Linked DNA regions of Homo sapiens: all the other regions are reported to be linked to region 2. The links are microRNA targets in miRTarBase. Many come from high-throughput screens and were not tested one by one. Region 2 holds a microRNA gene; each other region holds the end of a gene's coding sequence.

Region 1 (4,143 bases), not on the chromosome of region 2:
ATGATTGAATAAATTAATCAGTGGGGGAGAAGAGAGAATTCTCCCTTGCAGAGGAGTTGAATAATTAATGTAGGTAGCTACTCTGCCCTTAAGGAGAGCATGTAACTTCCTTGAGGTGTGGGCTGCATGTACATAATGACTTCCTTTCAAAGAGTAGGATACAGGCCAGGGCTCAGCACAGTGGCTCATGCCTGTAATCCCAGCACTTTGGGAGGCCAAGGTGGGCGGTTCGCTTGAGGTTGGGAGTTCAAGACCAGACTGACCAACATAGAGAAACCCCATCTCTACTAAAATACAAAATTAGCCCAGTGTGGTGGCAAATGCCTGTAATCCCACTTGGGAGGCTGACGCAGGAGAATCGCTTGAGCTGGAGAGGCAGAGGTTGCAGTAAGCCAAAACCGTACCATTGCACTCCAGCCCGGGCAACAAGAGCAAAATTCCATCTCAATAATAATAATAATAATGTAGTGAGACAAGAATGGGCAGCTCCCCAACAGAAAAGATTTTCTAAGAAACTTAATGTTTGCCAAGCCTCACTAAATCAAAATCAAACAATGACATAATCTGTTTTTGCCACTTAGACTGGCAAAGTTTTAAACATTGATAATACTGTTGGCAAGCACGTAATTTTTGTATCACAGTAACATAAATTGGTAAAAACCTTTGGCAAGTGTAAATGACAATGAATTAAAATTTTAAATGTCCCTACTCTTTGACCCAACAATTCTACTTCCAGGAATAATATCCTGAAGTGATTTTCACCAACGCTCAAAAATAAGAATAAGGTTGGGCATGATGGCTCATGCCTGTAATCCCAGCACTTTGGGAGGCCCAGGCGGGCAGATTACTTAAGCTCAGGAGTTCAAAACCAGCCTCGGTAACATGGTGAGACCCCATCTCTACAAAAAAAAATACAAAAATTAGCCGGGTGTGGTGGTGCAGGCCTGTAGTCCCATCTACTTGGAGGGGTGAGGCAGGAGGGTCACTTGAGACTGGGTCGAGGCTGCAGTGAACCGAGATCATCATGCCACTGTATTCCAGCCTGGGTGACAAAGTGAGAGCTGGTCTCAAAAAAAAAAAAAAGAGAACAAAGATGTTCAGTTTGGGTCAAGGGCTCATGCCTGTAATCCCAACTACTTAGGAGGTTGAGGTAGGAGGATCAATTTAGCCCAGGAGTTTGAGACTGGACTGGGCAACTTAGTGAGACCCCATCGCTACAAAAATAAATAAGCAATAAATCTTTTTTAAAAAGATGTTCAGGCCAGGCACAGTAGCTCACGCCTGTAATCCCAGCACTTTTGGAGACCGAGGTGGGCGGATCACGAGGTCAGGAGTTTGAGACTAGTCTGACCAACATGGTGAAACCCCGTCTCTACTAAAAATACGAAAATTAGCTGGGTGCGGTGGCATGTGCCTGTAATCCCAGCTACTCAGGAGGCTGAGGCAGGAGAATCGCTTGAACCCAGGAGGTGGAGGTTGCAGTGAGCTGAGATCACGCCACGGAATTCCAGCCTGGGCGACAGAGTGAGACTCCGTCTCAAAAAAAAAAAAAAAAAAATGTTCGGCCAGGCGTGATGGCACCCACCTATAATCCTAGCACTTTGGGAGGCCGACAGAGGTAGGCAGACCACTTGAGGTCAGTTCGAGACCAGCCTGGCCAACATGGCAAAACCCCATCTCTACAGAAAATATAAAGATTAGCTGGGCATGCTGGCATGTGCCTGTAATCCCAGCTACTTGGGAGGCTGAGGCAAGAGAACTGCTTGAAGCTGGGAGGCAGAGGTTGCAGTGGGCCGAGATCACGCCTCTGTACTCCGGGCCAGAGTGACACTCTGTCTCAAAAAAAGAAAAAAAAAATGTTCATTGTGGTACTGTGGATAACAGCCATGTACTAGAAATCCCCCATGCCTGTCACTAGAGGAACCAGGAGATAAATGCCGGGACAGCTACACGCAGAAAGGAAGGTGGATGGTGTTTCCAGGGCAAGGAAGATGTGTGTGTATTGGACATGTCAACATGTCTAACACATGCTGATCAGTGAAAGCAGGTTGCATAGTAGTGTGAACAGAATGTTCCTGTTTTTGTAAAAGAAAAATGGGTTTATGCAAATAAAAGGCAATATGGTAGAATATTCACCAAGCTGCCAGGAATCAGGATCCCAGAAGAGAAGGGATAGAGAGCACTCTCACTTTATATACACACACGCCTTTTTAAAATGAGTATATATTTGTCTAATAAGCAGAAAAATACAAATAAAAACAAATCATTAGTAGAGCGTTTCTCATAATTACTTTAAAATGTCTTAGCATAATGAATGGTGCATACGCTACAATTTATCCATCCTTATTTATTTATTGAGTCGGGGTCTCGCTCTGTTACCCAGGCTGGAGTGCAGTGGCGCCATTTCAGCTCACAGCAGCCTCTACCCAGGCTCAAGCGATCCTCCTACCTCAGCCTCCCGAGTAGCTGGGACTACAGGCGTGCGCCACCAGGCCCGGCTATATTTTTTTCTATTTTTGGTAGAGACGGGGTTTCATCATGTTGGCCAGGCTGGTCCCGAACGCCTGAGCTCAACCGATCCGCCCGCCTCAGCCTCCCAACGTGCTGGGATTATAGGCATGAGCCACCACGCCCGGCCTATCCATCCTTATTCATATTATGTAGGAATCAGAGCTCTCCATAATGTCCACTATTATAAATGAACAGCATAATTCCCTTGGTCATAACTTCCATTCCAAATTCTTGCTCAGCTCTCGGCCCCGTGTGACACCTGGGGGTAAGAACCAACTACGTATGCGCTCAGAAACTCACCTGGGGTCTCCTGGCTGCCGTGACTGAGTACCAGGGGCCTAGGCAGAGGGAGCAACCGAGAGAAGAGAAGGCAAGACCAGGCCCAGCCCCTTCATCGGCCCTCGCCAGATCACTCTCTCTCAAGGGGTCAGGATTCAGACTTTCGTGTTTCTCTCCAAATCTGAAGTTTACAAAAGTAGCCGAGCTGCTCATCAGGGATATGCAAGTCTGCTTTCTGCAGCAGAGAACAGAAGTGAAAGGGAGAAGGGATGAGCAAGAAAGTCTCTGGATTTCAGGAGAAGGAAGACAGCCCCAAGGGCAGGAGAAACACTTGTGAAGGGTCCATTGAAGAGACAGAGAGGGGGCAGCTCTGGCCTCTCTGCTGCCACTTCCCTCATTCGATGCACAGCGGTGGGGCTCACACCATTTTCCACTCAGCCTCTTCCGCACAACCTGCACATCTATCGTTTCTTCAGGGGCTGGAGCTGGTTCCACGATGCCTAGCCAAAATCAGGAGGGGGTCCTGGGGCCAGCGACTACCACTGTGACCAGATTATTATAAAGATGGGGGAATGTGGCTTTAAAAAAGTGGGGAAAGGACCCAATTTTCCAAAATGCAAATTTTTTCTTCTATTGCCCCCCATCATTTGCACCTATTTTTGTCAAGTCCAAACATAATTTGAAGTGAGGTAGGTAGTTTCTCTCTACTTCTGCCGTTGTCCTTGGGGTGATGTCGGGGCCTGTGCCCTAAATGCACTTGTCTCCTGTGCAGGGGCAGTGCCAGGGCTGGCATCAGTGGCTGGTGGAGCTTCTCAGTTGGCTATTTTCTCAATCTCGTCCAAATCATCTGTGTCCAATCTTTCTATCTTCTTATCTGGGGGAAAGATACACAAGTCTCTACCCTGCCCAGGAATGTGCCCCACCTCAGGCCACAGCAATCATTCATTCAGGCCCAAAGGCTCCGGGTGCCTAAGCAGGGGGCAGCAGGGCCCCTAGTCACTGACAGCAACAGTCAGAGCCCCACGCCCCGAAGCCCAGTCACAGGGGAGCTGTCCTTGGAGTCCCTGGGTCCTGAAGTCTCCAGGTGTGCTCCCTGAGAACTGCCATATGGTCAGAAAGGAGGGGAGTGTGCTAGGGACAGAGCCTCTCTTGGGGCTACAGAAGATCCTACCCCTTTCACCACCCCGCCCTACTTAGCAAAGGGCGCCAGGCACAGGACCCTCCCCGGGACTCACTAAAATGCTCCTGGATTCTGTTCAGGATGTTCATGCTGTGCTTGCTGTCCACCATGTTCACTGCCAGGCCCCTCTTGCCAAAGCGGCCCGTGCGCCCGATCCGGTGCAGGTAGGTCTC
Region 2 (4,160 bases):
ACTGGGTGTGGGATGGTGACAGGAAATAGAAATTAGGGGCCAGGAAGTAAGAAACCAACCCAATGCTTATTTTTAGAAATGGCACCTCCCAGCCGTCAAAATTTAGTCTGCTGGTTAGGGTGGTTCCTGTTTCTTTAGCCAGCATCACTAGCATCTGTGAGCATCTTAATTGTGTCCTACAGGGTTGGGAGTCCCTCCTGCAGGCTTGCTTTAACCTAGGGTTCACCCATTTGGGGCACTTTTCACACTGTTGAAGTTGCCCATTTACTTGTCTGTCTCCCACTCAACCTCGGTGAGAACAGGGGTTTTGCCTGTTCTTTGTGGTATCTTATCACATAGCGCAGAGCCTGGAATATAGATGTGCTTAAAAAATATTCACTGCAGAGCTGGAGATCACTGCGGAAGCAGTGTAGAGAGGTGGTTATCAGTGTGGGCTTCAGAGGTAGACAGATGTGGGTTTGACTCATGGCCCTGCTAACTCACTACACCCACTTCCCCAATGCTGTGTTCTGGTTTCCAGATTCTATCACTGACTTATTACAAGCCTTCAGATTTTGTAAAACACTTTGAGGCTTTCCTGGAACAAATAAAGCATATAACTGCACATTTTGGTTTCTATGTAATACATAACCCATCTAGGAAAACGATCCTGGGATTTTGCTGTGCGCCTATCTGAAATGGTTTCCACTGATGAACTTAAAAATAACCAAATCTGAAATTTTAACTACCCACAATGCCTTGAACTTGTGTTAATAGGTCAGGCAATGAAGGGGACAAATGAACACCTTATGACAACCACTTGAGTAGATAAGCAAACCTGGGCGTCTTCAAATGTATATCTCCCTCCATCTTTGACATTTTGACTGGTTATCTCATAGCTGTGAGAATCCAGGTTGATTGCACTTGGAGCCCCTGGAGCCAGAAACTCTTGCCAGATTTCTTCTACCCTCTTGGCCACATCCTGTAGGGGTTGTTTCTTAAGATCTTGGACAGCCAGCCAGAACCTGAAGTGGGAGCAGAAACACAGTCAGTTCCAGGGGGCTCAGCATCGGGATGTTGCCTGAGATGGCCCCAGAGCTGATGTCCCATGAAACCCATTCTGCTGCATCTCTCAGCCTGCCCTGATGCCACTACATGAGCTGCAAAGACCATGGAGATTGTGAAAACATCAAAGGTGTTCCTATGGTGCAGAACAGAAAAGAATTGCATATTAAAAGATCAATGTGCTTCTCGTTATCAGAACGGGATTTCTCTCCTTCTACATGAAGGTTTCTCAACCTCAGCACTATTGCCACTTCAGGCTGGATAATTCTTTGTTGTTGAGGCTATTCTGTGAAATGTAGGATGTTTAGCAGCAACCTTGGCCTCTACCCACTAGATGCCAATAGCAACCCCCCTTCCCAAGTTATGACAACTAAAAATGTTTCCAAACATTGCCCAATGTCCCCTGGGAGATGAACTCATTCCTGGTTGAGAACCCCAGTGCTACATACATGCCACCATGCAGACAGTGTGAGACCCTTTGTCAAATCTAGTTGGGATCAAGTGATGGCATCAAAATGGAGGAGAGATCCCAGAAGCAGGCAGTGTCCTGGAATCATAAAGACTATCTGTGTAAGAATGAACCAGCCATTCCTATTATAGATGGAGAAACTGAGCCAATTCACATCAGTGCTCAGCACGGTGCTTGGCAAATAGTAGGTGCTCAATATATGGGTTTCAGAGTGAAGACGGACGCATCTGGAGCAATGCTGAAGAGGCATATGTTGAAAACTTCTCTGCAGAATGGTTCTCCTTCTGCTGAGAGCAAGAGAGAAAAATCTGCTCACTTCCGTATTTGCCTCTGTTTAATCCCTCAGCATCCGCATGGGAGCAGTGAGCTCTTTTCTGCTGAGAGCAGCAGCAGCCAGAGCCAAAGCTTGGACAACAGCTACCGGGTCTTAAGGATGGTTCCCAAGGCAGCCTTGCAGCAGGATCCAGGTCTGGGTGTCATATCCTTTGCCCTGTGCATGGACAGGCCAGCTCCCCCATCAGTGAGTAAGAGAGTAGGTCCTGTGCTGGTTCCGAGAGCAGCGGGAATCACAGGTAGTCTAGTCAACAGAAAGGGAGGGACAAGCGAAGCTGAAACATGACGTGGTGGAAAGTGCAGACAGTGCATTCAATCTGTCATCAAATTTCATCCAAAGTAAGATGTACTTGTTTCTTTTTTTTTTTTTTTTAGGGTTAAACATGTTTTTCTGTTGCTGTTCAGAGAAATGTCTTTGGAGCCAAGTGCATGGCCCAAAGGTGCCACTCAGTGGCAGACTGGAGTAATGCAACCCAATTTCTGCAAGGCAAGACGACTGTGTGTGTGTGTGTGTGTCCCCAAATGCTGGGCTCCAACTCTTCCCCTGATTTGCCATTTTTTGCCATTTAGGATTCTGATGATCTCCTTAAAGGAACCTCTCAGCGACCCTGCAGAGCCAAGCGTAAGGCAGAGAAGGCTTCATGACTTCCATCAGATCAGGAAGCTGGCTCTGCCCTCATCCTGTCTACGCCATATCTTGCCTTGGTGTACCTTTCTGGGTGCCTCTCTCTTCATCTGTAAAATGGGCACTGAGTGGATGGAGGGATATGTGGCATGGCTCTGGAAAACTTCCTATGCAGACTTAACTCAGAAATGCTTTCAGGTCCTGTGAGGGGGAGCTGAGGAGGGGTCAGTGTGGTGGCCACAGGCTCAATGCTGGCCCAGTGTGATCCCTCGGATTCCAGCCTTCTCTCCGCAGGTGGCCTGGGCAGATGCTGCCGCCCAGCTCTTGCTGCTGCCATCTGGTGTCCCCTGCCCTTCCACAGCTCTCTGACAGCCACAAGTCCTGGGTGCTCAGGTCCTTCTGGCTTCTGGGTGAGAGGAAAGCAGTCGTGTTTCTTTATCCAGAGTCCAGAGAGGGTGGGGAAGGAAGGGCTTGAAAGGAGCTGTTCCCCTACCTCATTGTTCAGGTGGGCCCTTGACTCTTGAGCTGGGGCATGGGTCTCCTCCATCTCCCAGGCCTGCCCTAGGTTCTGTAGGGCTCTCTGTCCACTCTCTCAGGTCTGCTGTGAAAAGAAGGAAGTGGCCGGGAGGCTTGCCAAGTGAAAATGGCCATCTGCTGGTGAGAGTACCTACAAGGCTTTCTCTGCCTGGAAGGCCATGTCTGACCAGTAGGTGAAAGATGCGGGGAACCTGGCTCTATAGGAAGAAGCCAGTGTTGGCTTTTCCAAGGCCCAGAAGGGGTCAAATGTCCAGAGACGAAGTCAGTGAGGCTTCCTCAGCCCCATGCTAGGCAGACAGGAGAACCAGGTTCACAGAGGGAGGCCGTCTGGGCTGAATCCCTGGCTGGAAGCAACCTTCTGGGTCAGCGTCTTCCCACGCCCCCTGGGCCCCTGCAACTTCTCACACAAATGGATGACACCTGGGTGATTTCCTGCCCCCTCAATCAATGCCACATGGGAGGTCACTTTCTGTCACCTCTGTCAGCACTGAGGAGGAGCTGCTGAGCCCCTGTGGGAAGGCCCTGAGGACCCTGGGAGCTCTGCAGGCTCCCTGCGGTTCCTGAGGGCTCAGGGTCCTTTTTGCAGGATGATTTGGGTGCCACATGAAAATGTACATCACTCAGCTGGATATAGAGATGACCGGAGCTGATGGAAATACAAATTTCATAATCAATTTTTTTGAGACAGGGTCATGATCTGTCACCCAAACTGGAGTGCAGTGGCTACATCTCGGCTCACTGCAACCTCCGCCTCTCAGGTTCAAGCTATTCTCCTGCCTCAGCCTCCTGAGTAGCTGGAATTACAGGGGCATGTCACCATGCTCAGCTAATTTTTGCATTTTTAGCAGAGATGGGGTTTCACCATGTTGGCCAGGCTGGTCTTGAACTCCTGGCCTCAAGTGATCCGCCCGCCTTGGCCTCCCAAAGTGCTGGGATGACAGGCGTGAGCCATTGCACCAGGCCGCGGAATCAAATTTAATAAACTTTTATGTAAAAATAAAAAGGTTTTCTTTGTCACATAAAACCAAGAATTTTTTTAAGTACAAGTGAAAACAACAGGCATGCTGGAGGAAGAGGAAGGGGAGGGGAGAGAAAGGGAGGGAAGGAGGGGGAAAGGGCAAGAAGGGAGAGGGGGAAGGTATGGGGTAACAT
Region 3 (4,128 bases), not on the chromosome of region 2:
GGGTTTCACCTCAGAGGACCCGACAGCACTCTTGCAGGTGGGAACCTACACAATAGGAGTAATGTGGCTCCACCTTCCTCTCGGGACTCGGGACCTGGGGGTGGAGACTTGGAAGTTGCAAAGCTCTCGGTGCCGGGAATCGGGGCTACGGTTGAGTGGGATCGGGCCAGGGCTGAGGTGGTCCCACCCGTGTAGGGGCGCGGAGAAACGCCTCGACTGCTTCACTGTACCACCACCCACCCGCCACGGGCCTGGAAGGAGCCGCTAAACATTCCCGAGCCTCAGTTTCCTTAGCACAAACAGGCTGGTAGTTTCCTGGTGCTTGCCAGATGCCTGATGGATGAGAAAGCCTCCTGCGGCCCCGAAAGGGAGTCCAGAGCAGAGGCGGGCCCGCGGTCCACTTTTACAGGTCTGGACGGACTCACGGGACCACGGTCTGGGTGGGGCATGCGGAAGGGCCTAGGCCAAATGGGGAGTAGTGGTGAGGGCCCAGGGTCAGACTGGGGGGTGGAGTGAGGTTGTCTGGGAGTCTTGGCTTTATGAACCGGAAAACCAGGCTAATAATTGAATCCAATCCAAGGGATATTGTAAGTTGTGATGTGTTGACTGCAGTGCCGCTCCCTATAGTTGCGCAGGGTGAGGGGCGTTTGGGTACTGAAATCCCGCACGGTCTCCTTGCTACGCCCGTGTCTAGGCCAGACAGCCTCTGCTTACCATAGACACCAGTTTCTCATCCACAAAGGTGCCCAAGGCCCTGCTTGACACAACAGTGTTACAAGCTGTTAGCTTTGATGATTACTTGTTATATGGGGGAGTTCAACAAGTTGGTCGGTGTCCTTAGGAAAGTCACCCCTCTTCTTTCCTGTGCCTCCGTTTTCATTGTCTTTAAAATGGGTATAAAGTTGGCTGACAGGTGAAGTTGAAATGTGCACAGGTAAGGGAGGTAGTGCTGCCCACTGCCAGCAGGGGGCAGCTCAGGCAAGGAAAAGACCCCAGTGCTCTCAGGACCCCCCAACCAGCTACGTGATCACATTTTTATGATCACAGATAAGATGAGCATATACTGAGGTCCCTTGCTAGCAGTTTGGCATGGAGGACCTCATTTAATTCTTGCAAAAATCCTGAGGTATGATCACTTTACCCATTGTACAGATAGGGAAACTGAGGCTAAGAGGTTCGCCGACTCCTATAACACCACACAGTTCAGATATCCCTGGCCCCAACATAGAGATACACACACACAGTCACTCACATGGAGCAGTCTATCACTGGAGTCATAACTCCCCAGCCTTGGCTCTTCCCCATGGGAATGCAAAAGGGGTCGGTGAGGAGCAACAGTTACGAATCAACTGTGTTACAGGTGCTCTCTGTATATTCACAACCACCTGGCGAGGTAGTGACTGTTATCCCCTTTAGCACTGAGGAAACTGAGGCTCTAACAGCTGGCAAAGGCAGAGCTGGGACAAGACCAGGGCTCTGACCTCCTCCACCAATACCTCTGAATCCTCCCCAGCATCTACTGTGGTGCCCTTTGCTGGTCTTTCCTCCTAGGGTCTGAGGTTCCCCACTGGAAATGGGATCAGAATGTTCCCCTGCCTGGTTCCCAACAGGGTCAGAAGAGAGAACTTGGAAGAGTTGGATTTTGAGTGCTTTGTGTGTTGTGTGTATGTTGAGGGGAGAGAAGTTGGAATGCTCCCACACCTCCTGCAGCATCCCCACCCTCCCCTTCACCCCCACTGCAGCAGTGCCATGCTCTGGAAGCAAGAATCTGATCACACCCTCCTCCTTCTCTCATCACATTCGGGTGCCCTCTGTCTTCTCAATAACCCAGGTCTGATCTCCCTGGCCGCAACCAGCTGTGTGGCCTTGGTCAGGTCCATCCCTCCCCTTGGAATCTGTACTTCCCTAGGCTCTGTCATCTATTGGGGACGATGCCCAGGTCAGGCCTATACTCAGAGCCTTCTTCTCTTCATCTCCAGAACAGCCGTCTGCCTGTCTTCCTGGCTCGCTCCCTGCAGGAATGGTCTGGGGCAACCCCAGCAACACGCCCACCTGTGGCCAGGATGAATAGGAATCCAGTTCAGGCTTGGCTTCCATGGCAATCAAGGCCCACCAGGCCCCAGCAACCTTCCCTACCCCCCATTCCTTTTTGCTGCCCCCCTCCACACCAGGCATGTTCCCTGCCACACCATGCTGTTCCCCTCACCTGGGCTGCCCTCCCAACTCCTCTCTGCCTCTGGAGATGCTCTGCCATTCAAGACTTGGCTCAGGCTCCAGGTCCTCCCTGGGCCTTCTAGAGCCCCTGGTTCTCACTCCTCTGAACACTTCCAGCCTGGCTAATAGCCCACTGCATCCTGGCCTGGGGTACAGGTGGCCAGCACAGGTGTGGGGGCCAGCTTCCAACACAAGCACGGGTAGGTCCCTCTGCAGACCATGGGCTGCAAGAGGCCCGGCCTTGCCCACTGCAGGGGCCCTGCGCAGGGCTGGGCACGAAGCAGGTGGGTGTCCACCAATCTAGTATCCAAAACCCTGCTTGGTTCACCCCCACCTCTGTTGAAGGAAAGCAACACTGTGATGGAGAGGAGCAGCTGTGGATTCAAATCCTGGCTTGGCCACTTTCTAGTTGTGTGACTTGGTGCATCTGCCCTCATCTCCTCAGAGACAAAAATGGCAACACCTCCCTTCTTGGGTTACTATGAGGATTAAATAACAAAACCTCCAAGAAGCAGAGCCCGGTGTCTGGAGAGTGCTCAATGGACGTAGTTATTATTATCATCATCAGCACAGTGCGGGGCACATGGTGGGCATTCAGGGATGATGGCCCTTGTGTCACAGCCGACACTCTTGACCAGTGAGTCCTCTCTCCTCCCTTTGTTGACTCCTGACCGTCCACAAATGAGGTTCAGAATCCTCCATCCAGCATCTTCCCTGGTCACATGGTCCCAACCTTTTGCTCCACCCCCTTCTCTGTTCCCCCCGCAGTCCATGCTCCAGCCATCCTGACTCTGTCCCTGGATTTCTGGCTTACTGACACCTGAGCCTGTGCACAGGCCCTCCCTTCTGTATAGAGCACGCTTCCCATCTTGTGGACTTGCTTCCCATCTTGTGGACTCGGAGGGTTCCGAGCAGCCGTTGAGGCTGAGCTCCTATGACACCTCCTCCGTGAAGCCTCCCTCACTTTTCCATTACCAGTGAGGCCTGCCACAGCCTGATTTGTACTCTGATCCTGGCACGCATGAAGCCGTGTTGCCATTTGTTAACAGTCTGTCCTCCACTAGACTGTGAACTCCACCAGGGGGGGAACCAGGTCTGATTGCCTCTGTGTCCCCAGATACCACTTAGCACAGAGTCGAGCCCATAGTGGCTATCAGCAAGTGCTAGGCCCAGCCTGCCACCCACCCACCACTCACTTGGGGGCTGGAGGCATTGCACGCATGCGGGGCATGTGGGACTTGTGGGGGCAGCTGAGCAGCGAGGTTTATAGAGGAACCCAGGGCGGCAGCAGGAAGGATGAAGGATGAGTGTCTGAAACTGGGTTGGCAGGCTCAGGGCATAGCCAGCCTAAGCTGGGGGTCAAAGGCCCCTGGCCCCTTCACTCCCCCAGGGGCACACAGTGTCGGCGGCACGATGTGGGATGCCCCAGGAAGGGCAAGGCCATGGGGCTGGGCTTTCCTCCATCGACCCAGGACAGAGCTGGTGCTGAAGGCCCCATCAGCATGACTGGGGTGGAGATCTTGGGGACCTCCTTGGGGGGCCACAGTTGGGGGGAAGGGCACAGCCCATCCAACATGTCCATCTGGTGTGGCTGTGCCAGCAGGGAGTGTCCCACATGCAGAGCTCCCTCTGGGCTGCAGGAGGTGGGGACCTGGGTGGGCAGGTGGGCACAGCAGCAGGGGGCCCCAGGGAGCCTAATCCAGCGGGCCCTGGAAAATGAGGCGGACGCAGCCATGCTCGCCGGTAAGCCAGGCCCCGCAAAAGGGGCAGGCGGCATGGAAAGCATGGGTGCCGTGGGGCAGTGGTGTCTGGGCCCAGTAGCGGGCAGTCTTCTCAGAGCAGACGTGGCCGCAAGGTGCAAAGGCATGGCTAGGCGGCCCAGGGTCCAGGCAGAGGCCGGCCTCCTGGCCAAGC

What was found. Region 2 holds the annotated microRNA hsa-miR-7843-3p (AUGAAGCCUUCUCUGCCUUACG, at 2,468-2,489, opposite strand). A microRNA usually pairs through its seed, bases 2 to 8, with sites in the 3' UTR of a target mRNA and lowers its output. Matches are read on the target gene's strand: a 7mer-m8 pairs with bases 2 to 8, a 7mer-A1 pairs with bases 2 to 7 and ends in A, and an 8mer does both.
Region 1: the mRNA of DDX19A is a reported target of hsa-miR-7843-3p. The part of its 3' UTR that is shown has no 7-base or 8-base seed match.
Region 3: the mRNA of PELI3 is a reported target of hsa-miR-7843-3p. Seed matches in the 3' UTR shown: 7mer-m8 at 3,237-3,243 and 7mer-m8 at 3,164-3,170.

What each region holds. Positions count from the first base shown.
Region 1 is chr16:70,371,446-70,375,588 of GRCh38, reverse strand. It overlaps DDX19A (DEAD-box helicase 19A), which reads right to left. Exons shown (of 12, transcript NM_018332.5): 11 at 4,026-4,143; 12 at 2,206-3,664. The coding sequence ends at 3,603. Among named protein-coding and RNA genes, the nearest start is that of DDX19A, 27 kb to the right of the region's middle.
Region 2 is chr14:72,515,195-72,519,354 of GRCh38, reverse strand. MIR7843 (microRNA 7843) reads right to left here and starts at 2,535; the gene lies at 2,457-2,535. It overlaps RGS6 (regulator of G protein signaling 6), which reads right to left. Exons shown (of 18, transcript NM_001204424.2): 15 at 818-1,004. RefSeq lists enhancers at 337-406, 4,084-4,160.
Region 3 is chr11:66,475,948-66,480,075 of GRCh38, reverse strand. It overlaps PELI3 (pellino E3 ubiquitin protein ligase family member 3), which reads right to left. Exons shown (of 8, transcript NM_145065.3): 8 at 2,739-4,128. The coding sequence ends at 3,909. It overlaps DPP3-DT (DPP3 divergent transcript), which reads left to right. Exons shown (of 4, transcript NR_120586.1): 1 at 1-37. Among named protein-coding and RNA genes, the nearest start is that of DPP3-DT, 2.2 kb to the left of the region's middle. RefSeq lists enhancers at 249-816, 1,755-2,348, 2,986-3,806.